Linked DNA regions of Homo sapiens: region 1 is linked to region 2. Evidence: fine-mapped expression QTL. A gene starts in region 2. The other region holds a variant in brackets. All regions are shown on one strand. Distances are between the middles of the regions.

Evidence for each region. PIP is the estimated chance that this variant, and not a neighbour inherited with it, causes the effect.
Region 1: its variant is fine-mapped to the expression of MYL6 in whole blood (TOPMed, PIP above 0.99).

Annotation. Positions count from the first base shown.
Region 1 is chr12:56,119,751-56,130,331 of GRCh38, forward strand. It overlaps ZC3H10 (zinc finger CCCH-type containing 10), which reads left to right. Exons shown (of 3, transcript NM_032786.3): 3 at 761-7,764. The coding sequence starts at 813. The coding sequence ends at 2,117. It overlaps ESYT1 (extended synaptotagmin 1), which reads left to right and starts at 8,517. Exons shown (of 31, transcript NM_015292.3): 1 at 8,517-8,959. The coding sequence starts at 8,570. RefSeq lists enhancers at 1,405-2,402, 6,490-6,749, 8,189-8,850, 8,656-8,905, 9,226-9,325 and 1 more and a silencer at 8,386-8,455. The variant G/C (reference allele first, on the strand shown) is at 6,558.
Region 2 is chr12:56,148,550-56,164,499 of GRCh38, forward strand. It overlaps MYL6 (myosin light chain 6), which reads left to right and starts at 9,810. Exons shown (of 7, transcript NM_021019.5): 1 at 9,810-9,855; 2 at 10,135-10,162; 3 at 11,038-11,181; 4 at 11,426-11,599; 5 at 11,694-11,771; 6 at 12,077-12,121; 7 at 12,838-13,030. The coding sequence starts at 9,853. The coding sequence ends at 12,105. MYL6B (myosin light chain 6B) reads left to right here and starts at 4,038. Exons shown (of 8, transcript NM_002475.5): 1 at 4,038-4,082; 2 at 5,324-5,543; 3 at 6,264-6,291; 4 at 6,506-6,649; 5 at 6,870-7,043; 6 at 8,919-8,996; 7 at 9,149-9,186; 8 at 9,333-9,433. The coding sequence starts at 5,370. The coding sequence ends at 9,177. MYL6B-AS1 (MYL6B antisense RNA 1) reads right to left here and starts at 9,676. Exons shown (of 3, transcript NR_186043.1): 1 at 9,634-9,676; 2 at 9,085-9,396; 3 at 2,247-2,436. SMARCC2 (SWI/SNF related BAF chromatin remodeling complex subunit C2) reads right to left here. Exons shown (of 29, transcript NM_001330288.2): 28 at 15,754-15,950; 29 at 13,810-15,216. The coding sequence ends at 15,140. It also overlaps LOC124902942 and LOC124902943. RefSeq lists enhancers at 8,809-8,918, 10,929-10,998, 11,039-11,108, 12,079-12,701, 12,702-13,322 and 1 more and silencers at 9,539-9,708, 10,079-10,258.

The DNA of each region.
Region 1 (10,581 bases), 31 kb before region 2:
CAGTGGGATCTTCACATAGGGGAGTAGGAAGGGGGTGGGGAATGGGGAAAGGTCACTTGTTCCTGTGAAATTAACTCCTTCCCACTTGACCTTATCACAAATGGTTTGTCCTAGGAAATCTAGAAGTGGAGACTCTAACTTAGAACTCCTATCCTGAAATAGAAGGGGCTTACCTCTCTGCCGTTGACAGTGATGATGGCTGGGAGGGAATACTAAAATATGACAGGTTTTGAGACTCCCCTCAAGCTGGTGACACCAGTCTCTTCACCCAGGATTTCTTGGCTTCTAGAGATTTGATGTGTACAGAGCCCTTACCTGAGGAAAAGGAAAGGGGGTTAAGGAAGTTTTGTTACCAGTGTCCCATCTTCTACAGCCCTAGTAGCTCAGTAGCCCATCTTGGGCACTATTCCCAGTTTCCTTCCAGACTATTCAGATACTGACTGCAGTTTTAATTTCACTTCCACAACTTTAATAAGGTCAGCTCAAAAGGAAAGATGAATTCCAACACTATTTTTTCCCTGCTCCGTCCTGGGCCTATCCCTCCTCCGTTAGCCAGGCAAGTGTGAATCATTCTGACCCAGACCAGGTGCACAAAACCCTGGGAGGGGCTTTTGATGAGTCAGACATTTCAGCCAGAATTCTTATCCCTTAGATTCTCCATCTCTAAAGCCATTGCCCCTCTGGGCCACCTGCTTTATAGTCAGGAAGAGTGGGATCTCCCTGGAGGACTCCTGTTTGATACAGTTCTCCTCTTTTGTAGTGGTCACCAAGAGTGGCAAGATAAAGAAAACCCTGAGTTGGGCGGGACCAGGATGCCTGACCGGGACAGCTATGCCAACGGTACCGGGAGCAGCGGTGGAGGCCCTGGAGGTGGTGGCAGCGAGGAGGCCAGTGGGGCAGGGGTAGGCAGTGGCGGGGCCAGCTCAGATGCCATCTGTAGAGACTTCTTGAGGAATGTGTGCAAGCGAGGCAAGCGTTGCCGATATCGCCACCCAGACATGAGCGAGGTGTCCAACTTGGGGGTGAGCAAAAACGAGTTCATCTTCTGCCATGACTTCCAGAACAAGGAGTGTAGCCGCCCAAATTGCCGTTTCATCCATGGCTCCAAGGAGGATGAGGATGGCTATAAGAAGACAGGAGAGCTTCCCCCACGGCTGAGGCAGAAAGTAGCAGCTGGCCTTGGCCTTTCACCGGCTGACCTACCAAATGGCAAGGAGGAGGTCCCTATCTGCCGTGACTTTCTCAAGGGTGACTGTCAGAGAGGAGCCAAGTGCAAGTTCCGTCACCTGCAACGGGATTTTGAGTTTGATGCTCGGGGTGGAGGAGGCACTGGTGGGGGCTCAACAGGCTCAGTCCTCCCAGGACGACGTCATGATCTCTATGATATCTATGACCTTCCTGACAGGGGCTTTGAGGACCATGAGCCAGGCCCAAAACGCCGGCGAGGTGGATGCTGCCCCCCTGATGGCCCTCATTTTGAGTCATATGAATATAGTTTGGCTCCACCGCGAGGGGTGGAGTGCAGACTGCTAGAGGAGGAGAATGCCATGCTCAGGAAGCGGGTAGAGGAGTTAAAGAAGCAGGTCAGCAACCTGCTGGCCACCAATGAGGTACTACTGGAACAAAATGCTCAGTTCCGCAATCAGGCCAAGGTCATAACCCTGAGCTCCACTGCACCAGCGACTGAGCAGACTCTGGCCCCCACTGTGGGCACTGTTGCCACTTTTAACCATGGCATTGCCCAGACTCACACTACTCTCAGCAGCCAGGCTCTACAGCCTCGTCCAGTGTCCCAGCAAGAACTGGTGGCCCCTGCTGGAGCTCCAGCTGCTCCCCCAACTAATGCTGCACCTCCTGCTGCTCCACCACCCCCACCCCCACACTTGACCCCAGAGATCACGCCACTGTCAGCTGCCCTGGCTCAAACAATTGCCCAGGGAATGGCACCTCCACCTGTCTCCATGGCTCCTGTGGCTGTATCTGTGGCTCCTGTGGCCCCTGTGGCTGTATCGATGGCCCAACCCTTGGCAGGAATCACAATGAGCCACACCACCACTCCCATGGTGACTTACCCTATCGCTTCCCAGAGCATGCGCATCACGGCCATGCCACACTGATGGGGCTAATGGACACTCCCCTGGTATAGCCTCGCAGGGCTGGGGTCAGGGGGCCCTTGCCCACTCACCTAGCCTTCCCCATCCCTGTCTGAAGGGCTCCCTTGAGAACTAGGACAAGAGACTACAAGGAGTATGTCCTGAGGAGGGGTTGGGATGGTGTGTTTTCTCTCACCTCCCTTTTATGAGGGTCCTCTTGTCCATCTTCAAGCCTCACAGTGGGGGCTTGCAGAGGAGTGCAGACTGAAGCCAGCAGAGAGGAAGGACTGACTGAGGGGCTGTGTCCTCTTATGGGAATTTGGGAACATCCCTCGTCTTGTCCTCTCTTCTGCACAGCACAGGTTCCAGCACTGGTTTTAGAAGAAAAAAATACCCTGCCCAGAGGGAAAGCCAGGAAAGATTGGGAAGTGGGTGGTCAGGAGAGAAGGCCTGATAGGAGCCTTCAGACAATTTGGGTCCTAGTTGCTTGGGTTGGACAATACAGGAATTGCTTCTGGGCCCTGGGAAAGCTGGGACCATAGTGCTCCAGCCCAAAGACTAGGGGAGCATTCATTACCCTAGTTTGACCTGAAAATCCATAGGGCAGGGCCCACTACTTTCCAAAGAAATAAAAGAACAATTATTTTTAACAAATGGAGGCAGTGAAAACTTGCTTAGCTATTCTGTGTGGAAGATGGGAGCAGTAAATAGATCTCATGCCAAAATGGGATAAAGACCCCAGCCTCACATAGCTTTGGTAAGATGGATAGAAGCCAGTGAAGAAGGGTAGGGACCCAGAACAAGACCAAATGGGGCTTTGGGGAAGGCACTTTATGGGGTAAAAGCTTTGGAGCCACCCAGTCTAGTTTTAAAAATAGTCCCATCTGTTTCTGGTCTCTGTCTGTATGTGCTATTCCCAGGTTGCCTCAGTAACCAGGGCTCCTAGGGTCATTTAGCAGGGCAGGCAGTAAGGAGAGTGTATTTGCTGAAATGCGGATGGGATGTTACATAGTTGACAGATCCTTATTCAAACAGAGCAGGACAGGTGGAGTTGATGGCCATTGAGTTGATGGCAGTTGCCGCTCAGTTGATGGCAGTTAATGTCCCTCCTACCCCACCCCTTCAGTGGCCAGTTCCTGAAGCCTTCAAGGCTTGGGAGGTCTGGGAAAAGAGAGTCCTTCTAGGGACACAAGCCTCAGGGTCCATCCCTTTCCTCTGTCTCCACATAGGACCAGAAGTTTTAAATCTACTTAAGTCAGTAAGGCCAGGGGCCCCAATAGTCAAACCTCAGTTCCTCCTCAGCTCACGGCTGATGTAGGGAAAACAACTCAGGTGTCTAGTCTAATGGGACAGTAGATTTGGGGGTAGAGAGTGATCCTGGATTGTGTTCCCCCTCATCATGTCTCCTGCTACCTCTTGCTTTCTTGTCTGGTTGATCACTCAGGTCACATCTGGGATTGGAGATGGTGGGCTAGGTCAAGGCCAGTCATTAAAAAAAAAAGCCTAAAGACTAAAAGTGGGCTAACATTGTGGATTTTAGAAACAACACATTGATAAGCTTAATGTTTTTTGGGACACAATTTTTTTTTTTTTTTTTGAGATGGAGTCTTGCCCAGTCACCAGACCGGAGTGCAGTGGCGCAATCTCGGTTCACTGTAACCTGCGCCTCCTGGGTTCAAGCGATTCTCTTGCGTCAGCCTCCCGAGTAGCTGAGACTACAGGCGCCCGCCACCACGCCCGGCTAATTTTTTTATTTTTAGTAGAGACGGGGTTTCATCGTGTTGGCCAGAATGGTCTCTATCTCTCGTGATCCGCCCGCCTCAGCCTCCCAAAGTGCTGGGATTACAGGCATGAACCACCGTGCCCGGCAATTCTAGACTATTAAAAGAGATGGTTTAAGAGCATTTAGAGAAGAATGTAACCATAGATACCAACATGAATTCTCAGTCAAATCCTGACTGACTTTATTTCCTCCTTGCCAGGTTATCTCCAAAGAGGTAGATTTGGGAAATTTTAGACATTGTATGTCTTGTATGTATTTACTCCAGCTGAAGACCACCAAGAATACACCTGGTAATTGAGCAAGTTGGGTTTAATGCTCATTGCAGTGAGGGGGAGGGCTCACCATTGGGGATAACGTGGTGTGTCTCAGCATGAGGGTGTTAGGAACGACTTAGAGAACTTAGACTTTGGTTAAGTGATTTTGGGGAAGATTCAAGAAAGTGGGTGTTCTTTTGGATTGGGTGCTGTTAAGGGAATCCAGGATAATTGGGTAGCTTGTCTAGAAGAAGGGCAGACAAGTGAACCTAAGCACAGTCGATGATGAAGTCACTCACTAGCTGGGAAAGGGGATGTTTGCTGTTTTGTGGTTTGCACACTGACCTTGTTTTGTGCTTAAACAAAATTGTGTAGTGATTTTGTTTTTTGTCTCACTTCATCGCAGTCACTGAGTGACCTTGTCTGATGCTGGTGTTTTGTGAGATTGTTTGTGTCCAAGAGAACTCATTGGCTACCTGTGAGCACCAGGTCAGCCCTAACAGCTCTGAAGCCTGGCTGTGTCAGGCCAGTTCCCAGATTACAGGAGCTACTTTCCTCTCTCTCACCTGCTAAGTCATCACAGATAAGAGGAAAATTACGGGTCAGTTAATCGTAGCATTTTTTCCATGCAAATGGCTCTGGTTAAAAAATAATGAGAAAAAAATAGTAGCATTTGGTAGAATCAAACTGAACACTTGTACTTAGTGTTGGTTAGCGCATTTATGTTAGAGAAATCTCTGTTCTCTAGTGATAAGCCCAAGGGCTATGTTTTATTGTAAAAAGAAAAAACCCAACTCGGGTAAACATGTAAAAAACCCATTTATCAACAGTAACACAGGAAGAGCTAAATAATATTCAAAGTGTCTGTAACTTGAATTGACTAAAACACTGGAGCACTCTCACACTAAAAAATTGCTTAGATCTTGAACTAGTTTGAGGAACAATGTTAGAGATTTATATTAGCAATAATTCACATGAGAACAAACTGGGACTTCCAGTTGGCTGCAAAAAAATAGAATCTTAGCCCTCAAGATGTCCATTTATAAATATTTATTAAGAGCCTGCTATGTTCTAGGCATCTTTCTAGGAGCTCCATAAGGGTAGTAGAACCTTGGTAATAGATTACAAATACAGCAGTTCTATGTTCTGCCTAAGTGTAACCACTTAGTAGTGTGTTGTTCTAAATGTAATTTTTAAAGAGGGCCATTGACAAACCAGTGTGTTGCTAGAAAAAAAAGGCTGGCAAGAGAAAGCTTCAAATAGAAGTCTTCAAATATTTGAAGGGCTGCCCAGTGGAGGAAGATCCTGTTTGCTACACAGGAAGTAAAAAGGGATTTCTAGAATAATGGCTAACTTTTTTTTTTTTTTTTTTTTTGAGACGGAGTCTAGCTGTGTGGCCCAGGCTTCAGTGCAGTGGCACGATCTCTGCTCACTGCAAACTCTGCCTCCAGGGTTTACGCCATTCTGCTGCCTCAGCCTCCAGAGTAGCTGGGACTATAGGTGCCCAGCTAATTTTCTTTTTGTATTTTTAGTAGAGACGGGGTTTCACCGTGTTAGCCAGGACGGTCTCCATATCCTGACCTCGTGATCCGCCCACCTCGGCCTCCCAAAGTGCTGGGATTACAGGCGTTGAGCCACCGCACCCAGCCGGCTAGCATTTGTTGACTGCTTAATATAAGCCAAGGCTCTGTGCTAGGCACTTTACATGCAACATCTCATTGACACAATGGGTAATATTATTGTACCCATTTTACAGAGGAGAAAGCAGGCTTAAAAAGTAACCTGCCCAGGGTTCTGCAAGTAAGGAATGGGGCCAGGAATCTATTCAGGCAGTCTCACTCCAGACGACAAAAGAAAGTTCTAATGATATAGCCATCCAACAAAGCGATCACTACTTGGCAGTAATTTTTTTTTTTTTTTTTTGAGACGGAGTATCACTCTGTTGCCCAGGCTGGAGTGTAGTGGCGTGATCTCGGCCCACTGCAGCCTCCGCCTCTCGGGTTCAAGTGATTCTCCTGCCTCAGCCTCCCAAGTAGAGTAACTGGGATTACAGGTACATGCCACCATGCTCGGCTAATTTTTGTATTTTTAGTAGAGACGGGGTTTCGCCATGTTGGCCAGGCTGGTCTTGAACTCCTGACCTCAGGTGATCCAACTGCCTCGGCCTTCCAAAGTGCTGGGATTACAGGCATGAGCCACCGCGACTGGCTTGGCAGTAACTTTTGAGGAATAAAGAATACAGAAGGAGTTTCCTCAAATCTTGTTGCCCTTCCCATCTTTGTGAGCTGAGATCAGAGTACCGTATCTCACCCTCTGCCTCTTGGAGGTGATTATGGTTTACATATAAATGCAGATTGCAAGTCCAGGAAGTTTACTCTCTCTCCTCCTGTAGGCCTCATCCTGTAAGACACTTCCTCTAACAAATGG[G/C]CATCCCTTCCTGTTGTCCACTTACTGCTTATCACCACCAGGTGGCACCTGGGCAGCAGAATTGTCAGTGGGCGGGGACCCACCCTGTTTACTTGTGTTGGTAACTGCATTGCAGCTGCTGATCCTGTGGCTCCTGGGCCCCAGCTGGGACAAGAACTTCCTGAGGATGAAGTTTTATCCCCTATATAATTTCTGATGATCTGGATGAGGTGAGGAAGGGAGAAGTTTGGAAAAGAACCTCCATAGGTCACCCTCTCCATTCCCCCATTCTCAGGAACCTCCTTGCCTACTCCAGTGCTTGGCAAATTTCAGTTTATAGAGAGGTTTCTCTCTAAGGTTCATCCATGTTCCTTCTGTAGTTCTGCTTTATCAGTTGGTGAGCAGGTCACTCATAATTCCTCCAATTTCCTTGTTTCCCTTTTCTACCTGCTTACCTCTGGGAATATGGAGGATATAGGAGACAGAATATTGTTTCTTAAATAGTTCTGCAAACTGAATGAAGCAGTCAAGATACTGCTAGCCCTAGGGAAGTAGAGAAAAGGAAGTGAAAAAATTTAAGTGATAGAGGCTGAGCAGGGACAGGTTTTAAGCAGCTTTGGTAAACACAGGCTGATGAAATCTATGCCCTGCAGAACCAGATAAAATTTATCAGCTGCAGGCCTCATCCTGTAAGACACTTCCTCTAAGAAATGGCTAGTTTCTTCCCAGTGATCAACCCCAGTTCTTCTGCTGCATCTGACAGATTTACATAATATGCCCCATATATACTGCATTAAAAGGTAATCATCTTATGACCAACACTTCCCTCATCAACTTCCAATTAGTCTAGTTCCTAGATCCTAGGACAACACTCCACCTCTAACGCCAGTTAACTAGTAACAATAGTCATCGGTGTACCCTGCACTTTTTCCTTCCTAAACCTACACCGTACACTGTGGGACTGCACTAGTTCTGCACCTGACTGTATGGCAAACCTTCCTTCTAACTCAGGCAAATGTGAAAAGGAATTGTCTTTCCCTTACTCTTGATCCCTCATTTTAGTGTCCTAGAAGTTCTTCAGGGTCAGAAAATTATTGGAAAATGTAATAATTTGCGCTGCCTCCCTCCCTTTTGGAGCCAACTAGTCTTACATCCATCCTCTAAGATAGAGATGACTTACTAACTCTTGGAAATTTCCAAAAAGAAATAAAGCCTCACTTTCTATTCACTCTGCTTTTTTTCCCCCTTTCCCTGAAGGCTGGATTATCTCAACTCTGTAATTCTCTGACTCTCCAGTTTTCTCCAGGGTCAGTCGTTACACCACACAAAGAAGGTAGGGGATTAGGGACGGGATAGACGGGGTTAGTTTTCAAACACTTTCATTCCAAATACGATCGTATCCTTTCCTTTTGTAAGGGCAGGCAGGAAAAAGTTGAAGGATAAGGAATGTGCTTAGAGTATGAAAACTAGAGAAAGTCGGCAAAAGAACATATATATATATCCCAGACCAAATCCTGCCAAACCGAATGAGTAGAGGGAAATCCTGAAGCTCCACAACCCCTCAACTTCGCAACTTGGGCTTTCTCCAAAACCAAGAAATTGGCGGTGCAGCTCTGCATGACGTCATACCACAGGCACTCCAATCCCACGTGGGGGAGCTCTTGGTCCCGCCTCTCCTGAAATGGTGCGCCACGCCTCCTCCTCTTTATTACCAATCGAATGCCGCCCCTGAGCCCCTTTCTTCCTTTTCCCGCCATCTCAGACCTCCCATCTTGGCCTTCGGGCCCAATCAGGGAGGCCCTACCTATCCGAAACCCGGTCCGTTCCCCGCGGAAGAGGGGTGGAGTTTCAACCTTTTAACTCCACCTTGGTCTGTGCAGCGCGGACCAACCCAAATCGCCAGAAAGGAGGGGCGTGGCTTGAAGTCCCCTCCTCCATCCCGGGGATCACGTTTTGCCTGGGGGAGCTGATCGCAAGACTAGGCAACCTCCAGCCAGTCCCTGGGTCGGGCGGATCCTCCCAGAGGTGGCACAATGGAGCGATCTCCAGGAGAGGGCCCCAGCCCCAGCCCCATGGACCAGCCCTCTGCTCCCTCCGACCCCACTGACCAGCCCCCCGCTGCTCACGCAAAGCCAGACCCAGGTTCTGGGGGCCAACCTGCTGGCCCTGGCGCGGCGGGTGAGGCCCTGGCGGTGCTGACTTCATTCGGGAGGCGGTTGCTGGTGCTGATACCTGTGTATTTGGCCGGGGCAGTGGGACTCAGCGTGGGTTTCGTGCTCTTCGGCCTCGCCCTCTACCTGGGCTGGCGCCGGGTCCGCGACGAGAAAGAACGGAGCCTTCGAGCAGCGAGGCAGCTACTGGACGACGAGGAGCAGCTCACTGCGAAAACTCTCTATATGAGTCATCGAGAGCTACCTGCCTGGGTGAGCGACCACCCTCGGTCCTCTGTGCAGCATAGCCCCCTTCCACCCCTTCCATCTGGGGCTTTTCCTCCTTATGCCTAGAGTCAGCTCCCTGCCTTGGGACAGTGGGCCCCAGACTTTCCCCTCTCTCCCCGCTAGCCGCCTGCCTGCTGGACGCGCCACTCTTGGAACCGACTGCTCACTCTCCCCACCCACCCTTTCGCATGCCCAGACTGGATCCTTCCACAGAATCAGGACTTCTTCCTCTACTTGGGCAACAGCAGTAATAACATCTGGGGACCCCGTCTCAGCCGAAGCTCTCCCTCCTAGCCAAGCCATCTTGAACGTCCCTCTTGCTTTTGGTGCCACTCGCGGCTTTGCTGCTCCTGGAAATCCTGGTCCCGTTACCTCTCAAAGGTTTCCCTAGTCTTTCCCATCCTCCTCGAGACTTTTTACCTACTTAAAGCCATACGGTTCTCTCTTTTCTCGCTTTTATCCCCGGGTACCCGCTAGGACCCAGCCCCGGCCCCTGGACGACCCTCGGGCAGCCACCTTCAAGCCTCCAGCCGCCAGACTGCAGCGCGGCAGAGGCGGCTGCTGGACGGAGGGAGGGCTACGGGAGGAGGTGGTGCGGCTGCTGCAGTGCCCGCGGCGCACACTCCCCCGCACTCCTCGGCCGGCCACACCCTTTTCCGGACTGTGGGCTGCGCTTGTTCCGTTGGGGCAGAGACCCTTATTTCTGCGGCGGCCGCGTCTCCTGTGCTGAGGCGGATGCCTTCTCTCTAGTCTTGCAGAGGCGAAGCCGGTTACCCGGCCCCTCCCAGCAGAGGTGCCAGTCTAGGGGGAGAATGGCAGCAGAGAGGAATCAAAATTGACACTAGACAGACACAGCCAAGCTTCCCAGGCCCTGGACTGGAAAGGGGAGGAGAAAGAGGGCCAAATGGCTCTAGGGGACCTGTAGCCTAGGCAGCAAGTGTTTGTCTCCTCCTCATCATCATGGAAACCAATCTTCCTACCCCCAATACAAAGCGCAGGTGTCCTTTCCCTTAAAAGGAGTCACACAGAGAAAGATAGAGGAAAACACACACACACACCCCAAAAAACCCACAAAGCCAGGCCTAATTAGGTCTTCTGGCCCCTCCCTGACTCAAGGAAGGACTTGCTTCCCTCTTCACCTTCCTGCTCTAGAAGCCCCGTCTGAGGGGAGTTGAGAAGGCTGGAAAAGGGGACTTTTTTTTTTTTCTTTTTTGAGACGGAGTCTCGCTCTGTTGCCAAGCTGGAGTGCAGTGGCCCGAACTTGGCACACTGCAACCTCTGCCTCTTCAAGCGATTCTCCTGCCTCAGCCTCCTGGGTAGCTGGGATTACAGTCACGCGCCACCACGCCCGGCTAATTTTGTATTTTTAGTAGAGACAGGGTTTCACCATGCTGGTCAGGCTGGTGTCGAACTCCTGACCTCGTGATCCGCCGGCCTCGGCCTCCCAAAGTGCTGGGATTACAGATGCGAGCCACCGCGGCCAGCCTGGAACCAGGACTTTTTAAATCCCAGGATTCCCTCAAACTCCAATTTGACTGGACCTCCCCCTCCAGAAAGAATGCGCCCTTCTCCTCCTCCCGCTCCTCTCTCTCTCAGCAGCTGTCATT
Region 2 (15,950 bases):
ATGGCAAAACCTTATCCCTACTAACAATACAAAAAAAAAATTAGCCAGGTATGGTGGCACACACCTGTAATCCCAGCTACTTGGGAGGCTGAGGCATGAGAATCACTTGAAACCAGGAGGTGGAGGTTGCAGTGAGCTAAGATGCACCACTGCACTCCAGCCTGGGCCACAGAGCAAGACTCCTGTCTCCCAAACAAAACACAAAAAGGAACGTATACTGAATAAACATGCTTGAAGAGAGCAGCTAAAGGGCCCTAATACAATCTCCTTCTGCTTCTCTTCCTCTCAACCTTTTCCACTGTGCTCTCTGGGAGCCTATTTCCACATAACACTTCCCACCCATTCCACCTTTCTTTTTTTTTTTTTTTTTTTTTTTAGGGGGGTACAGAATTTCACTCTTGTTGCCCAGGCTGGAGTGTAATGGCATGATCTCGGCTCACCACAACCTCCACCTCCCGGGTTCAAGCGAATCTCCTGCTTCAGCCTTCCTGAGTAGCTGGGATTACAGGCATACACCACCACGTCTGGCTAATTTTGTATTTTTAGTAGAGACAGGGTTTCTCCATGTTGGTCAGGCTTGTCTCGAACTCCCGACCTCAGATGATCCGCCCACCTCGGCCTCCCAAAGTGCTGGGATTACAGGCATGAGCCACGGCGCTCAGCCTTTCTCTTTTTTTTTTTAGATGGAGTCACCCTCTGTTGCCCATGCTGGAGTGCAGTGGCACAATCTCAGCTCACTGCAACCTCCGCCTCCTGGGATTCTCATGCCTCAGGCTCCCAAGTAGCTGAGATTGCAGGCGCCTGCCACCACGCCTGGCTAATTTTTGTATTTTTAGTAGAGACAGGGTTTCACCATGTTGGCCACGCTGGTCTCAAACTCCTGACCTCAGGTGATCCACCTTCCTTGGCCTCCCAAAGTGTTGGGATTACAGGAATGAGCCACTACGCCCGGCCTGCTTTTTTTAAAAAATTTTTTAAGGACAGGGTCTCACTCTGTTGCCCAGGCTGGAGGGCAGTGGCACAAACATGGCTCACTGCAGCCTTGACCTACTGGGCCCAAGTGATCCTCCCACCTCAGGCTCCTGAATAGCTGGGATCAGAGGCACACGTGCCACCATGCCTGGCTAATTTTTGAATTTTTTTTGTAGAGTTGGGGTCTCTTGCTATGTTGCCATGGCTGGTCTTGAACTTCTGGGCTCAAGTGATCTTCCCACTTTGGACTCCCAAAGTGCTGGGAATGTTCATGTCTGATTAACCCCAGTTTTGGGAATGCCTCTAAGATTTCTATTTTATCTACTGTTCTTTGTGTAAGAGCATGTACTTACCATAATTTCTCCTTAGATCAAAACAATCTTGATCATAAAGCCTGGCTTACTGAGTATTCTTGCCTTTCCCTGCAGGGTAGACTTCAATTGTCCTAGAGGTTCCTTCCCTGTGGTAAGTCCTGGGGTCAGGACTTACTCCAGGGGATGATGTCCTGGGGATCCACCATCGTGTCTCACCACTACCCAAGACACAGACATGGCTTCTGTTCATAAATTCCTATTAAATATTTCTAAGAAACTGGATTTGTCAGCCTCCTTCCTCAACCTCTTAGCTTCCTTGGACTTTGGGGGTAAGTGTGCATAGACCTGTGCACTGCGGAACAGCTCCCCAATGGCTTTCCATATTCTTTCAATCTAATGGGCCACTCTGGACAGCTGAACATGTGGAGGTTCCTGGAGGACGGCATGCCTAGGGAAGGCAAGCAAGCTTCGGACTCACCTCCCTCCCTGCCCACAAAATGCAATCTCTAAGAATATACAGGCCAGTCAAGGTAGGTCATACCTATAATCCCAGCACTTTGGGAGGCACCTGAGATGGGAAGATCACTTGAGCTCAGTTTGAGACTGGGTAACACAGTGAGACCTCATTTCTAGAAAAAAACAAAACCAAAGAAAAATAAGAATATACAAATCACATGCTAAGCAGGGAGAGGAGAGAGGAGAGACAGGCATTTCTCACAGATAATTCACATATATAATCACCCTATGCCCAGTTAAGACCATGTTTCGTCCAGTTCCTGTTATTTATGATCAAGACAGGGATGGCACAGAAAATGAAGGATAGCCTTCCCATCTCTGCAAGGGTCTTAACGTTTTTTCCCTGTACTACTTCTCTATAGAAAATGCTAGAAAGTCAGATGATGCCATAACCACTCATACTTGGCAAAATGCCAAAAATGGGAAAAGGAAAGAAAAAAAATTACAAGAGCCATATTTTGAAATCAATGTCTGCAAAAGTAATGAAAGCCACACAAAGGCATCTATAATGTGGCCCTTTCCCAGTCTTATAACCACTTAAAAATGTATTCCTTCTTCCTCTCCGTCTCTTCACAACACCTATTGATCCTTACTTCATTGATGTAAAATGGGGAAAATATCAGCGACCTCATACCTTGGGAAGATTAAAGGAAAGTTATTTAACAAAAACTTATACAGCACTTATGCTGTGCCAGGCCTATTCTATTTTACACTTTTTTTTTTTTTTGAGTTGGAGTCTCACTCTGTCACCCAGGCTGGAGTGCAGTGGTGCGATCTCGGCTCACTGCAACCTGCCGGGTTCAAGTGATTCTCCGACCTCAGCCTCCCAAGTAACTGAGATTACAGGCGCCCGCCACCAGGCCCAGCTATTTTTTTTTTTTTTTTTTTTTTTTTTTTTTTTTGTATTTTTAGTAGTGACAGGGTTTCACCATGTTGGCCAGGCTGGTCTCGAACTCCTGACCTCAGGTGACCCACCTGCCTCGCCTCCCAAAGTGCTGGGAGGTGTGAGCCACCAAGCCCGGCCCTATTTTACCAATAATAACACTTCGAATCCTCCGAAGAGCCCTATGAGGTAGGTACCATTATCATTATTTTACAGATGAGGAACTGAGGCCCAGGAGAGATAACTAAACCTGCTGAGGGTCACTAACTAGGACCTGGTAGAACCAGGATTTAAATCTGAGTAGGCTGTCTGAACCCCATCCACTTGAGCACCCTCTGAGATAATTTAGCCCCTTCACCGGTACGAGATCTATGGCGGCCTCCAGAAATGGTTGCTAACTTACTATTATCGTTATTTCTGTCGTACAATTCATTTCTACCTTTCCAATAAACTTTCCCCAACCAGTGAACCTCACTTACTGCCCATAAAGTTCACCTGTGCCTCACCACCCTGCCATCGCCCGAGTTTTCTGCTCTGATCTAATCCTCACACGCCTGTGCAGCACCAGCTTCCAACACCAGGTGCACCGCCAGGGTATTTACTGATCCAGTGAGTGAAGGTGGGCCCGGCCGGGCTGGTTCCCATCCTCTGATCAACGCCTAGGGGAACCAGTGAACTCCAATGCTGACCATAAGAGTTTCAGAAAGTAGGGCTGGAAAGCCCAGCCCTCCGCTCAGAGACCTGTGAAGATCGAGGAGGATGGCGCATATGCTGCCGCAGGATGGAAACCTCGATCAGAGAAGGCTGGGGCAGGTGACTGGGCTTAATTGCAAATTTTAACATTTACTTCAGCAACCAGCTCATTAAAAACAAACTACTCTGAGGCCTCTTTTTTTTCTACCAAACCGCGAGAGGAAGCAAAAGAGAGTGCAGCGGTTCTCCCCGGGGCCGTTAAGTGCTTCCAGCTATCTGACCTCCACGCTGCCTGCTGCAGCCTCAATCTTTCCCCAGGTTCTGAGTTCTTTCAGCAGTAGGTCCAGGAAAACAGCCGCCCCGCCCCCTCCACCTCCCGAGACTAGGAGCCCGCCAGGGTTAAGTAGGAGGGATACCCTAGGGGCCCCGCAGGGTTTTTAGGGTTGGGGTGGATTGGAAATTGTTCATTGCCTTTCAGTTCCGGGACATAAAGCGCGCTGGAAGGACACTGAGTCACCAACCACCGCCATGGGCCGGAAGCCACCGCCCTCGCGTCAACTGCAATCTAGAGCGCGGCGCATCCCGTGAGCCCGCGGGGAACTACGACTCCCGGCATGCTCCGCGGCCACCGGAATTAACCCTTCAGGGCTGGGGGCCGCGCTATGCCCCGCCCCCTCCCCAGCCCCAGACACGGACCCCGCAGGGTGAGTTTTTGGGGGCTGAGGAGGGCCATTTTCTTTAAGATTTAGTGGGGGTGCGTGAGTGTGTGTGTGTGTGTGTGTGTCGTGTGTGTGTGATGTATTTTGTAAAAATGGGACAATTTGCAGTCATGAGATTCAGACGCTGTTTTGCGAATGGGAGACCCAGCATCAACCCCGGGGCCTAAGTGGAATCACTGCTATCTTCCTCAGAATGCTACCTAAATCCTTTCCTAATTTACCCCAGAACAAAAGTAGCCTGCAATCCCTCCCCACTCCCAAACGCCCCCCAACTTGGACTCTCTCCCAGCGCCCCTGGCAAGGTTTGTGACCTGGCCCCTGAGTCAGGATTTTTATTATACCCCTGGTTGTGGGGTGAATACTCATGGAGCCATAGGAGCGCCCACATCCTCTTGGATTAGGGAATTTAAGCCGTCTCCCAGAGCCTGCCCTTCTCCTCAGGTGCCACCAAAGGGTCCCCACAGGTTCAGCAAGCACCCTACCTTTTGTTTGTCTTGAATGACCGTGGGCTTGTGGAAGGTTTCTTCCATGGAAGAATGGGTAGCAGATGTTAAACCTGATCTTTGCCCCCACTCCTGCCCCTAAAACAACACTGGGCACAGGAGACAATGAGGGATGTCATACTCCTGTTTTTATGACTATTCTTCCTTTATACTGTGAATAGTTCCAGTTCTTGGCTGGGTGGGGGCTCAGGAACTACAAGTATTAGGGATCATTAGACTCTAAGGTTAACTACCCCTGCTCTTTACAAAGCCATGGTCAGAAGGGAGTGGAGGGGCTGGGCAGATGGGCTTCTTGTTTTTGTCATTGCTCCCAGACCACACTTTAACTTGTTCCAGTTCACACAAGCCTCCCTGGCTGCTACCCCTCACCCCACCCTTCAAGAAGACTAAAGCTGCTGGATCACCTGCTTTGCCTCACCACCCCCATCTCAGTGCCACTGGCAAGCATCCTATCCTCACCCTGGAGGTTAACTACCTCATTCTGGGCAGTCTCTGGCTTCCTCCCCTACCCCTAAAGGAAACATTGTTCTTTTCTGGTCAGCCTTTGGGGATAAGGGGACAGAGGGAAGAAGACCTTGGGGCAGGAGTCCTGAACCATAGGAGGCCAGGGGAGTGAGGGCAGGCGGTTATATCTCTCCTCTACCTCATCTTTGCCACAGCCAACTGGCTCCCTGCCCCTGCCCCCGCCCCTTGACATCCCAGACTCCCTGGCTATTTAAACAGAGATGGGTGCCCCCATCCGCACACTGTCCTTTGGCCACCGGACATCATGCCTCCCAAGAAGGATGTTCCCGTGAAGAAACCAGCAGGGCCCTCCATCTCCAAACCTGCTGCTAAGCCAGCAGCAGCAGGGGCTCCTCCAGCCAAGACCAAAGCTGAGCCAGCTGTCCCCCAGGCCCCTCAGAAAACCCAGGAGCCTCCAGTCGATCTCTCCAAAGTGGTGGTGAGTCTCTGGAAAGTGAAGATAGAATTGGAGGGGGTGGTTTGAGGGTGGGATACAGCCTAGGGGATTAGGGGGTATCTAGAAGGTAGGGAATCAGTGAGCCCTGGAATGAGATTGGGGCTTTCCCTTAGTCCCCCATTTGGAAGCATCCAGTCTTATGACTCTGCTGTTGTCTTTGCTGTTCTCTCCCTCTAACCTATAATCATGTGTGTACAGCACATACACACTCACTTACCCCCTGCTGGAGGCAGGGACTCTTAGATGGGGAACATCTGGGTTCTGAGAACAGTTTCAAGGTGAAGGGAAGAGAGCTGTTGCCTGCCCCTGGCTGGTGGTTCAATTCAAAAGGCCTGCAGCTCTGAACTCCAGGAGGGGAGGCTGAAGAGGACAGACTTGTTAGACAATCACAGCTGGGGGCCAGGGGTAAATTTAGCCTTTGTTCAGCCCCCAGTTATGTGTGGGATGCAGGGCTCAGGGCAATGGAGGGAGGGAAACAGGTGGCATGGGATTAACCCTGTTCCCAGGAAACCCTCCCCACTGTAATTCCTCTTCTTGGGATTCTCCCAAGGCCCAGAGCTGGGAATGGGACTGAGGTGGCTGGGCTTCCAGCCTGGTCCCTTTGGGCCCCTCCTCAGAAGTGGCTGCCAGTTGGTTGGGAGGAGTGCGGGAGAGGGATTGAATAAACTCTCATCTCTCCCCACCTGCTTTTTTCTTCCACAGATCGAGTTTAACAAGGACCAGCTGGAGGGTGAGGAGAAGCTCATCTAAGGCCACTGTCCCATCCCCAATCCCCTGGTCAGATTCTCTTTCTATTCCCCTAACCCCAGTCCTGACCTTGAAACCTCCCATACTAGTCCTCTTTTCCTCCCTTGTTCTGTTCACATAGTTTCTGAAATTCCCTTCTGTCTGGGGGTGATGGGAACCCTAGTCAGTGTCTACACTGACCCTTCCTTATACTTTAGAGTTCAAGGAGGCCTTCGAGCTGTTTGACCGAGTGGGGGATGGCAAGATCCTGTACAGCCAGTGTGGGGACGTGATGAGGGCCCTGGGCCAGAACCCCACCAACGCCGAGGTGCTCAAGGTCCTGGGGAACCCCAAGAGTGATGGTGAGGGGACCCTTGGGAACAATTTGGGTTTTTAGTTTTCAAAAGTTGGATGTTGGTAACAAAAAGAATGAGGTGGATCTCAGGACTTCAAAAACTGTCAAACACAGAAGCAGGAAAATATCCTAAATGCTGAATAGGATGAAAGCATTGTGGTAGGGTTGGGAGCTGGGTCCTATGTAATACTACAATGACCTCTCCTTTACCTCTCTCCAACCTCCAGAGCTGAAGTCGCGGCGTGTGGACTTTGAGACTTTCCTGCCCATGCTCCAGGCAGTGGCCAAGAACCGAGGCCAAGGCACATATGAGGACTACTTGGAGGGGTTTCGTGTGTTTGACAAGGAGGGGAACGGCAAAGTCATGGGAGCAGAGCTCAGACATGTTCTCACCACCCTTGGTGAGGCAGGCAAGGGGGACCAGAACTCCTTTAGAGTGGAGAGGGGGATGGGGTGGGCCAGAAAGACTGGACAGATAAGCAGAGCTAGCAGGAGGCTTACTGTCCTGCAGGTTGTCGGCAGGAGACTGAGAAGGTCAGAGCTATGGGGGTAGAATCTGAAGGACTCGCTCTTCCAGAGGCTAAAGTGCCATCCGGAGGGCAGAGGAAAAGGGATGAGGCGGGAAACCTGAATTTTCATTTTGGAAGAGACGTGTGGGTTGTGTGTTCTGGTACAAGTCTCGTAACCTCCTGGGATTGTTTCCTTGTGGGTCAATACTTTCAGCAGTACTAGGGTGAAATGGAAAGCAAGAGGCATCCATGACCAGGGGAGGATTCCCTTGAGGACTGAGGCTATGGGAGAAGAAGAGGTACCACTCTAAAGAGCGTGGCCTGGCCAGGTATGGTGGCTCACGCCTGTAATCCCAGCATTTTGGGAGACCAAGGCGGGCGGATCACCTTAGCTCGGGAGTTCGAGACCGGCCTGGCCAACATGGTAAAACCCCATCTCTATTAGTAATATAAAAACTAGGCGGGCATGGTGGCACGCACCTATAATCCCAGCTACCCAGGAGGCTGAGGCAGGAGAATCGCTGGAACCCGGGAGTCTGAGGTTGCAGTGAGCCGAGAGATCATGCCACTGTACTCCAGCCTGGGGGACAGAGCAAGGTTCTGTCTCAAAAAAAAAAAAAAAGGCCAGACACGGTGGCTCAAGCCTGTAATCCCAGCACTTTGGGAAGCCGAGGCAGGCGGATCACTTGAGATCAGGAGTTCAAGACCAGCCTGGCCAACATGGTGAAACCTCGTCTCTACTAAAAACACAAAAATTAGCCAGGCATGATGGCGGGTGCCTGTAATCCCAGCTACTTGGTAGGCTAAGGCAGGAGAATCGCTTTAACCCGGGAGGTGGAGGTTGCGGTGAGCCGAGACCGTGCCACTGTACTCCAGCCTGGGTGATAGAGCAAGACTCAGTTTAAAAAAAAGCAAAACAGCATGGGCTGGCCGGGAGCAGTGGCTCACTCCTGTAATCCTAGCACTTTGGGAGGCCAAGGCAGGAGGATCGCTTGAGCCCAGGAGTTCGAGACCAGCCTGGGCAACGTAGTGAGATTCTATCTCTATTTAAAAAAAAAAAAAGTACAAGGCTGGGCGTGGTGGCTCACACCTGTAATCTCAGCATTTTGGGAGGCCGAGATGGGCAGATCATTTGAGCTCAGGAGTTCGAGACCAGCCTGAGCAACATGGCAAAACCATGTCTCTACAAAAAAATTTAAAAATTAGCCAGGCGTGGTGGTGCACGCTTGTAGTCCCAGCTACTTCGAAGGCCGATGTGAATCACTGGAGCCCAGGAGGTGGAAGTTGCAGTGAGCCATGATGATGTCACTGCACTCCAGCCTGGGTGACAGAGGGAGACCCTATCTCAAAAAAAAAAAAAAAAAATTACAATTGTTATGTTTATATTGTTGTTTACAAAAATATATGGAAAAAGCCAGGCGCGGTGGCTCACGCCTGTAATCCTAGCACTTTGGGAGGCCGAGGCAGGTGTATGACCTGAGGTCAAGAGTTTGAGAGCAGCCTGCCCAACATGGCGAAACCTCGTCTCTACCAAAAATACAAAAAATTAGCCGGGCGCCTGTAATCCCAGCTACTCGGGAGGGTGAGGCAGGAGAATCGCGTGAACACGGGAGGCGGAGGTTGCAGTGAGCCGAGATCGCTCCGCTCCACTGCACTCCAGCCTGAGCGACAGGAGCGAAACTCCGTCTCAAAAAAAAAAAGGAAAAGCGTGGCCTGGGTGAGTGAAGGAGGGAAAGGAGGGCCTCAGACGTTGTGTCTGGGATTCAGGAGAGAAGATGACTGAGGAGGAGGTGGAGACCGTTCTGGCAGGACACGAGGACAGCAACGGCTGCATCAACTACGAGGGTGAGGGGACAAAAAAGCGGGAGCGGGGCCGAGGGAGGAGGGCAGCCTGGCGTCTTGCCGCGTGTGGGCGGGGGCACCCCTGGATTACCTAGAGTCAGATGTATTATCCAAAGGCCTGCTTCTGAAGCCCCTCTTGCCTCCTCTCTCTGCAGCCTTCTTGAAACACATCCTAAGCGTCTGAGTGCTGCAGGTAGGGCCCTCCCACCCCTTCGCCGCGCCTTACGAGGCAAGTCTCCCGCCCTTCTCTCAGCCAACATAGAAAAGCAGCGGAGTTCATTCTGCTGTCCGGTTGCTGCACGGGCTCCAGCGCTTCGCAACTTTGGTTTTTTTCCACAGATCCAGTGGGGTCCGGACACTGGGCCCCGCAGGCGAAAGCACGTTCCAGCCACCAGGAGGCCACCTATTGTTTCAAAATAAAGACTGGGTTCCTCTCTTGGTTTCAGACTGCTATTTTTTTCATGGTTGGGGGAGCAGCGGGAGACGGGGAGGGTGCTAGGAGGAGAGGGCGGGAAAAGAGGGCTCTCTCCTCTTCCAATCCTCTGATCTTCCTGCTGTTGGGAGGTGCAGATTCATTGTGCCCCAGCCCACGTCCCCCCACGACCCCCGCCCCCCCACCTCCCCCCACGACCCCCCCCACCTCCGAGCGGGTTCTGTGCCCAGGTGGCGCTGGAGAAAGGAACAGCGGACCCCGCCCAAGTCATTACTAATGTAGCAATCGTCTGCATAAACCCAGGCCACGGTTCCTATTGGCTGAGTCCTCTGAGGGTGACGTCATCGGGACGTACTAAGACTAGGGTTGGGCCGAGAGTCGGAGCCATTACTGCAGGAAAAGGTCCCGGAGAGCTGAGCAGTCAAGATGGTGGGGCCCAGGTCTTGGGAGACGGGCAGGATTGGGGACGAGAGGCAGGAAGAGACGGGTGGGGGGCGAGGAGAAGGCAGGGGTAGGAGGCAAAGGGAATCTGAGGACCCGAAAGGTTGGAGGTGGGGTTGGAAAGACTGGGGCCCTGCGGGGAAGCGAGTCTGCAGCCTGAAACAGGAGTTTGTGGGTCAGAGTTTGTGGGTCAGAGTTTGTGGGGCTGGGATAGAAACTCGGGGGATTGGCGTTCAGATGCTGACCACTTCCCTCTTCTCTGAGCAGTGTGACTTCACCGAAGACCAGACCGCAGGTAGGTTATCTCTGATCCCTACCGAGGTCACCCTTAGGGAGAGGGACACCCTCCCCCCAGCACCTATCCTCTAATCTTAATCTGTCATCTCTTTAGCACCCCCATGAGATTACCCCCTGGATTATTTTCTCTTCTTCTGGATCCTCCATTTTCTTTTCTCACTTTCTTCCTCCCTCCCCTTCCACTCTAGATCTGATCCCAAGCACTGGGTGAGTTTTAGGTGGTGTGGGTATGTGAAAAAACTTGGTCACTTAATGCCTGCTGTGTGTGGGGTCTCGGGAGGGTGTATAAAGCTGCCTGCTTTCCTTTGTCCTTTAATCAGCTACTTCTGCCTCTTTTCTCCTCTTGTGATAACTGTCCCCGCCCTCCCAGCTTGCAGTTGTGAAGATTGTAGAGCAGTGACCTGATATTCTGTGCAGATGGGGACAAGACAGGGGAGTTTGCTAAGGATATGACTGTAGCTATACCCTCTGGAAGTTCTCTTTATACTGGAGGGGTGCGAAGTGGCAGGTTGGGATGACCCTAGTCCCAGGCTGCTGCTCCCACTTCCTTATAAGGACAGGACTGAGACTGGGCGGTGGCGAATTCCTGCCCTGAGAAGTGTAGTAGCAGCAGTGGAGATTGGCAGGCCTGCCGCAGGCAGAGGGGTTGTGTAAATGGATGTTACCAGGCTGCCAGAAGGGGAGGAAGCCTCTATATAGAACACTTGAGTTGGGAGGAAGAGAAATAGAGCCCTCTTAAGTAGACTTTGGTGTACAGTTTGGTGCAGATATCTCGTTTCCTCAGCATGATCAAAGTTGAATGGGCAGCAGAGCTCTGAGGTAGGGTTTGGATTAACCCTCAAATCCTGTGTTGACATTCATCTGAATCCTCAGAGTTCAAGGAGGCCTTCCAGCTGTTTGACCGAACAGGTGATGGCAAGATCCTGTACAGCCAGTGTGGGGATGTGATGAGGGCCCTGGGCCAGAACCCTACCAACGCCGAGGTGCTCAAGGTCCTGGGGAACCCCAAGAGTGATGGTGAGGGGCCTAAAGAACAACTCCTCAGTGTGGTCATGGGCCCACAGTTCTTCAGCTAAGAGCTTCCCTTTATCTTCATAGGCCCCAAACTCAAGCAAGTCTGGATTAGCAAATCCCATGGATTTCCTTGCTTTTAGTGGGGAGTCATCTGTCATCTCTCTGTTCAGTTGAGGTCTCTATAATCCCCTGTCCTGAGAACTTGTGTTACTTCTCTGGCCTGACACTTCCACCTCCTTTATGGCAGAGATGAATGTGAAGGTGCTGGACTTTGAGCACTTTCTGCCCATGCTGCAGACAGTGGCCAAGAACAAGGACCAGGGCACCTATGAGGATTATGTCGAAGGACTTCGGGTGTTTGACAAGGAAGGAAATGGCACCGTCATGGGTGCTGAAATCCGGCATGTTCTTGTCACACTGGGTAAGGTTCTGTGTCCTTGTCCTTGAGCTGAGATGGCACCCTGAGGTACCTCACTTGTCACCCAATTCCAAAAATGCTTTCTTTCCCCCTGCAGGTGAGAAGATGACAGAGGAAGAAGTAGAGATGCTGGTGGCAGGGCATGAGGACAGCAATGGTTGTATCAACTATGAAGGTAAGAGGTGAACTGCGCTTTCTCAGAGAAAGCAGCCATATGGGGCAGGTCAAGTATAGTGTCTGGGGCTTTCCCTATCCCTGGACTTGGGCTCCAAAAAGAGCCAGGAGGCAAGGTGCAGGGCCCTGCCCAGCCCAGCCCAGGAGTGGGAGGTCAGGGCGGTATAACAGGAAAGGAAGGGGGTAGTATTGTAGAGGGTGGGAAGGAATGAGAAGTGAAATAATGGAATGTCTGTCCCCACTGCCTGACCCCTCACCCCATGTCTTTGTCTTGTCTTCACCATGAATGTCTCTTCCTTCCTGCAGCGTTTGTGAGGCATATCCTGTCGGGGTGACGGGCCCATGGGGCGGGTACGGCTCCTCCCAGCCTCTCCTCTAGTTGATCTCCCCAGTGTTTCTTTTTTCCCCAACCTGTGCTCTTTATCCCCTGCCCTTACCCTACTACCATCTGACTTCCTCCTGGCATGTTTCTGCATGGAGCTGACTAGGGAGGGGAGGGATTCCTCAAAGAGGAAGACAACCTGGGGGTACAGTACCTCCTTACCTCTAGAATGGGCCCTGAGGTTTTACTTATGCGGCCCTGGGTGCTGGTGTCTGGGAACTCTCACCAGCCTGTATACCAGTCTTGCTTTAGGGTGACCTTCTGGCCCTGGAGCATGGGTAGCTGGCATAGAGGGGTATGGGTTGCCTGCCCCATTCTGCTGCTATAGCTGAACAGTCCTTTCCCCTTCCCTCGCTGGGCAGCTTGGAGGTACCCTAACCCAAAACTCTGTCCTCTCCTCCCGCCAGTGGCTGACAGTAGCTGTAGGTGTAGTGGAGAACTTTTCTGCCTCTGCTGTGTTCTTGCTGCTTAGGTTTGGGTGGGGGACTAACAGCTGCTGGGAGGGGAGCTAGGGGCATGGAGAACTGGTCAGACTCAAGGTGGCTCCTCTGCAAACTGACCCCAGGGTTGGTTGCTGTGGGCATGTTCCCGCTTATGCTACCTTTGCAGTCTGGTAGTCCCCTGGCCCTTGGCGTACCCCTCCACAGCCCTGTTCCCTGGCTCATCCCACCTTTCCTTTCCACAGAGCTCGTCCGCATGGTGCTGAATGGCTGAGGACCTTCCCAGTCTCCCCAGAGTCCGTGCCTTTCCCTGTGTGAATTTTGTATCTAGCCTAAAGTTTCCCTAGGCTTTCTTGTCTCAGCAACTTTCCCATCTTGTCTCTCTTGGATGATGTTTGCCGTCAGCATTCACCAAATAAACTTGCTCTCTGGGCCCTCGGTTCGGTTCTTTCTTTCCTGAACAGGGTAAAGGGGAAGAAGGTGAGATGGTGATGATTTCTGCCCTGAGGCAGAGTCCAAGGTCAATCAATGGTGCAGGGGTTGAGGAAAGCTGGGGGAGGCCCTGTACTAGCCATCTGGGCTTCATTTAAAAACTACTGGCCCCATTCATCCATCTTACACAAGCTACCTCTTGGGAGATTAGGAAAGCCATAGATCCCAGTAGGACTAAGGCTGGCCATCCCTGTTCCATTCCATATCAGGCTGTCTTCTCCTACCCTTCCAGCTCCTTAAATCTGGCCCCCGCCCTCCCAAGCTCCCAATAAGGCCTTTTGTGGGGAAGCCTGTGGAGTGTTTATTGGAGCTAAAGCCAGGCCATTATTAGCACTGCCTAAGCCTGTCCGTCACCTCAGCAGGGTGAAGGGCCAATTATAACAAAAGTAGGTAAGGGGCTTGCCTCCTCTCTAATAAGGGAAGGAGTGAAACCACTACTTCTGAAGGGACAGAGATACAAAATTCCATGTTGTGGGAATGTCCTTCCAAGTCTTAAACAGCTTTTAGGGCAGGTGAGAGCCTCTGCTCCTATACCAGCACATAGTCTCGACAGTTGTGCTGCCGTTCGTGTTTTGTGGGGAGGCGCAGTGTCTGTAGGCCGTGTGGCTTGCAGAGTGTCTTTCGGCCCAGGTAAACGCCGCTGTGAAGGACTCCAGGAAAGCTGCTCCCATCACAATCCCCCTGCCTGACAGCCACAGGTAAGAACACAGAATGCACCCACAAGATGGAACTGAAAGCAAATTAATTTATAAAAAAAAAAAAAAGAAAGAAAGAAAAAAAGAGAAAATTTACAGAAAACTTTGAACAGAAGAAAGGTGCTAAGACGCAGAGGGAGAGAAACATGGGGACATGAGGAACAAAGGGCCTGGTGGGAGGAACCAAGAAGAACCAGTGCAGAGCCTGGAGTCACACCTGCCTTCCCGTCACAGGGGAGAAGCTGGGACACGTGGAGCAGGAATGCGGGAAGCAGAGTTGAGCTGCGAGCCAAGGGTTGGTCCAACCCAAGGTTGGGCACCCTCTTCCACTGCTCCCAAATCCCTGCATCCTCATCTGGGGAGCCCCCAGCTATCAGCTGAAGTTCTCATAGTCTTGGTGGGAGAGGGAGGAAGCTAAGGGGTGACCCACCAAGTCATAATATGGAGGTGCTTAAGTGCTTTAAAAAACAATTTCAGGTTTTAAAACTTCACATCCTCTTATAGCTCCCTTCTCTGTGCCTTCCAGGAGTCCATGGATACAGCCCAGGGAAGGAAGGAGAACAGCCCCCAGTGCCCTTTCTTCTCCTATTACCTACCACAGAAATCCCCGAAATTAGGTTTTCCCCACCAAATACACATACGCTGACATCAACTAAGCAAGTGACTTTTAAAAACAAAACTGACATTCAGAGGGAAAGGAATCATTGGCTGAGCTGGGGTGGCCTAAAACAGCAACAATGAGGAAGCCGCAGGAGGGATTATTAGTACGAATGAACTCGAATAAGCTCAGCGTAGGGTGGGGGAGGGGAGTTGGGGCCTTGACTTAGTCACTAAAAAGGGGCTTGGGGAGAGATGGAATCTGCGCCCTGTTCTATCCCCAGAGCTCTCCCTGGAATCTTAATTCCCCTTTCCTAAAACTCACTCCCCCTCAAAAAATGTAAAAATTGGTTATTTTTTAGTGGGTAGAAGGGAGCTCCAATGTGGCTTTTTAAAATCTACTTTTTTTTTTTTTTTTTAATCCATAGAAAATGCAGTAGTTTGGAGGGAGGTGTACCCTTAGAAGTGGTTAATAGAACCTTGTATAAACACCTTTCACCAGCCCTTCCTTTAGGGCAGCATTCCCATCCTATCCTCTCTCCCAGACATTATAAACATCTTTTAAACAGAAGTCCTTGAATAATCTGATATAAAAATGCATGCCTCTGTTAGGCATGGTGAGGGCTTTGGAGGGGCGGAAGGAGCTTTCCTTACGTAGTGATGAACTCTCCAGGCTGGGGAGGGTCCCAGTGGTGGGGGAAGGGCTGTTCCTGGAACCGTGATGTCCACAGGGGGTGAGGGGGAGAGATGTCTGGCTGGCTCCTCACTGTGGAGGTGGCACAGGGGTGACCGTGCCTGGGCTCGGGGCTGTGGGGTCTGGAGGCAGGGGGGTGCCTGGGTCTGTGGAGAAAAGGAAGATAAATCAGTTAGAGTACGCCGGAGAGATGGCTCCAGACCCAGACCACCACAGACAGACAGAACCGGGCATGGCATGCAGTGGCTGGGTGGATGAATGAGGTACCCATAATGTTCAACTTCTGTTCCCAACACTCTTTTCTACCTCATACTCAGAAAAACATATAGAAAGACTCTCTATATGGGGCATTTGAACGTGATAGGAATAAGCAAAGGGATGCCACTCAATCATCATGCAAACAGCTGCTTTTCAAGTTTACAACTGAGATGCTCTCTGCCACAGGATTGCTCCATGACCCACCAGTGAAAGGCCCCAACATCATCCCAAAGGTGGCAGCTGCCAGGCTGGGGAATGGTGGAGGACGGCCAGAGAGGCCCTTCCTCCTGTATTCTAATTTTACCAGAGTGTTCAAAAAGGATTGTGGAAACTCTAATACCTGACCTCTTCCCCACCTGCCCGCTCACCCTCCCTCCAGGTGGACCCCTCTCCCTCACCCTTCTCCCCTCTTGGCCCCTTCTCACCTGGCAGTGGGCTGGCACTGGGCAGGAGGTTGCCCTGAACAGCTGCCACAATGGCAGGGCTTTGGGCTGCGGCGGATCCGAGCCCCGGCCCGAGAGGCAAGGAAGATGGCATGGTGGTGGTCGCCGGCAGGTTAGGATGTAGAGGGTTCGCCATGGACACAGGCAGGTTAGGTGGGGGGAGAGTGCCCGGGGCGAAC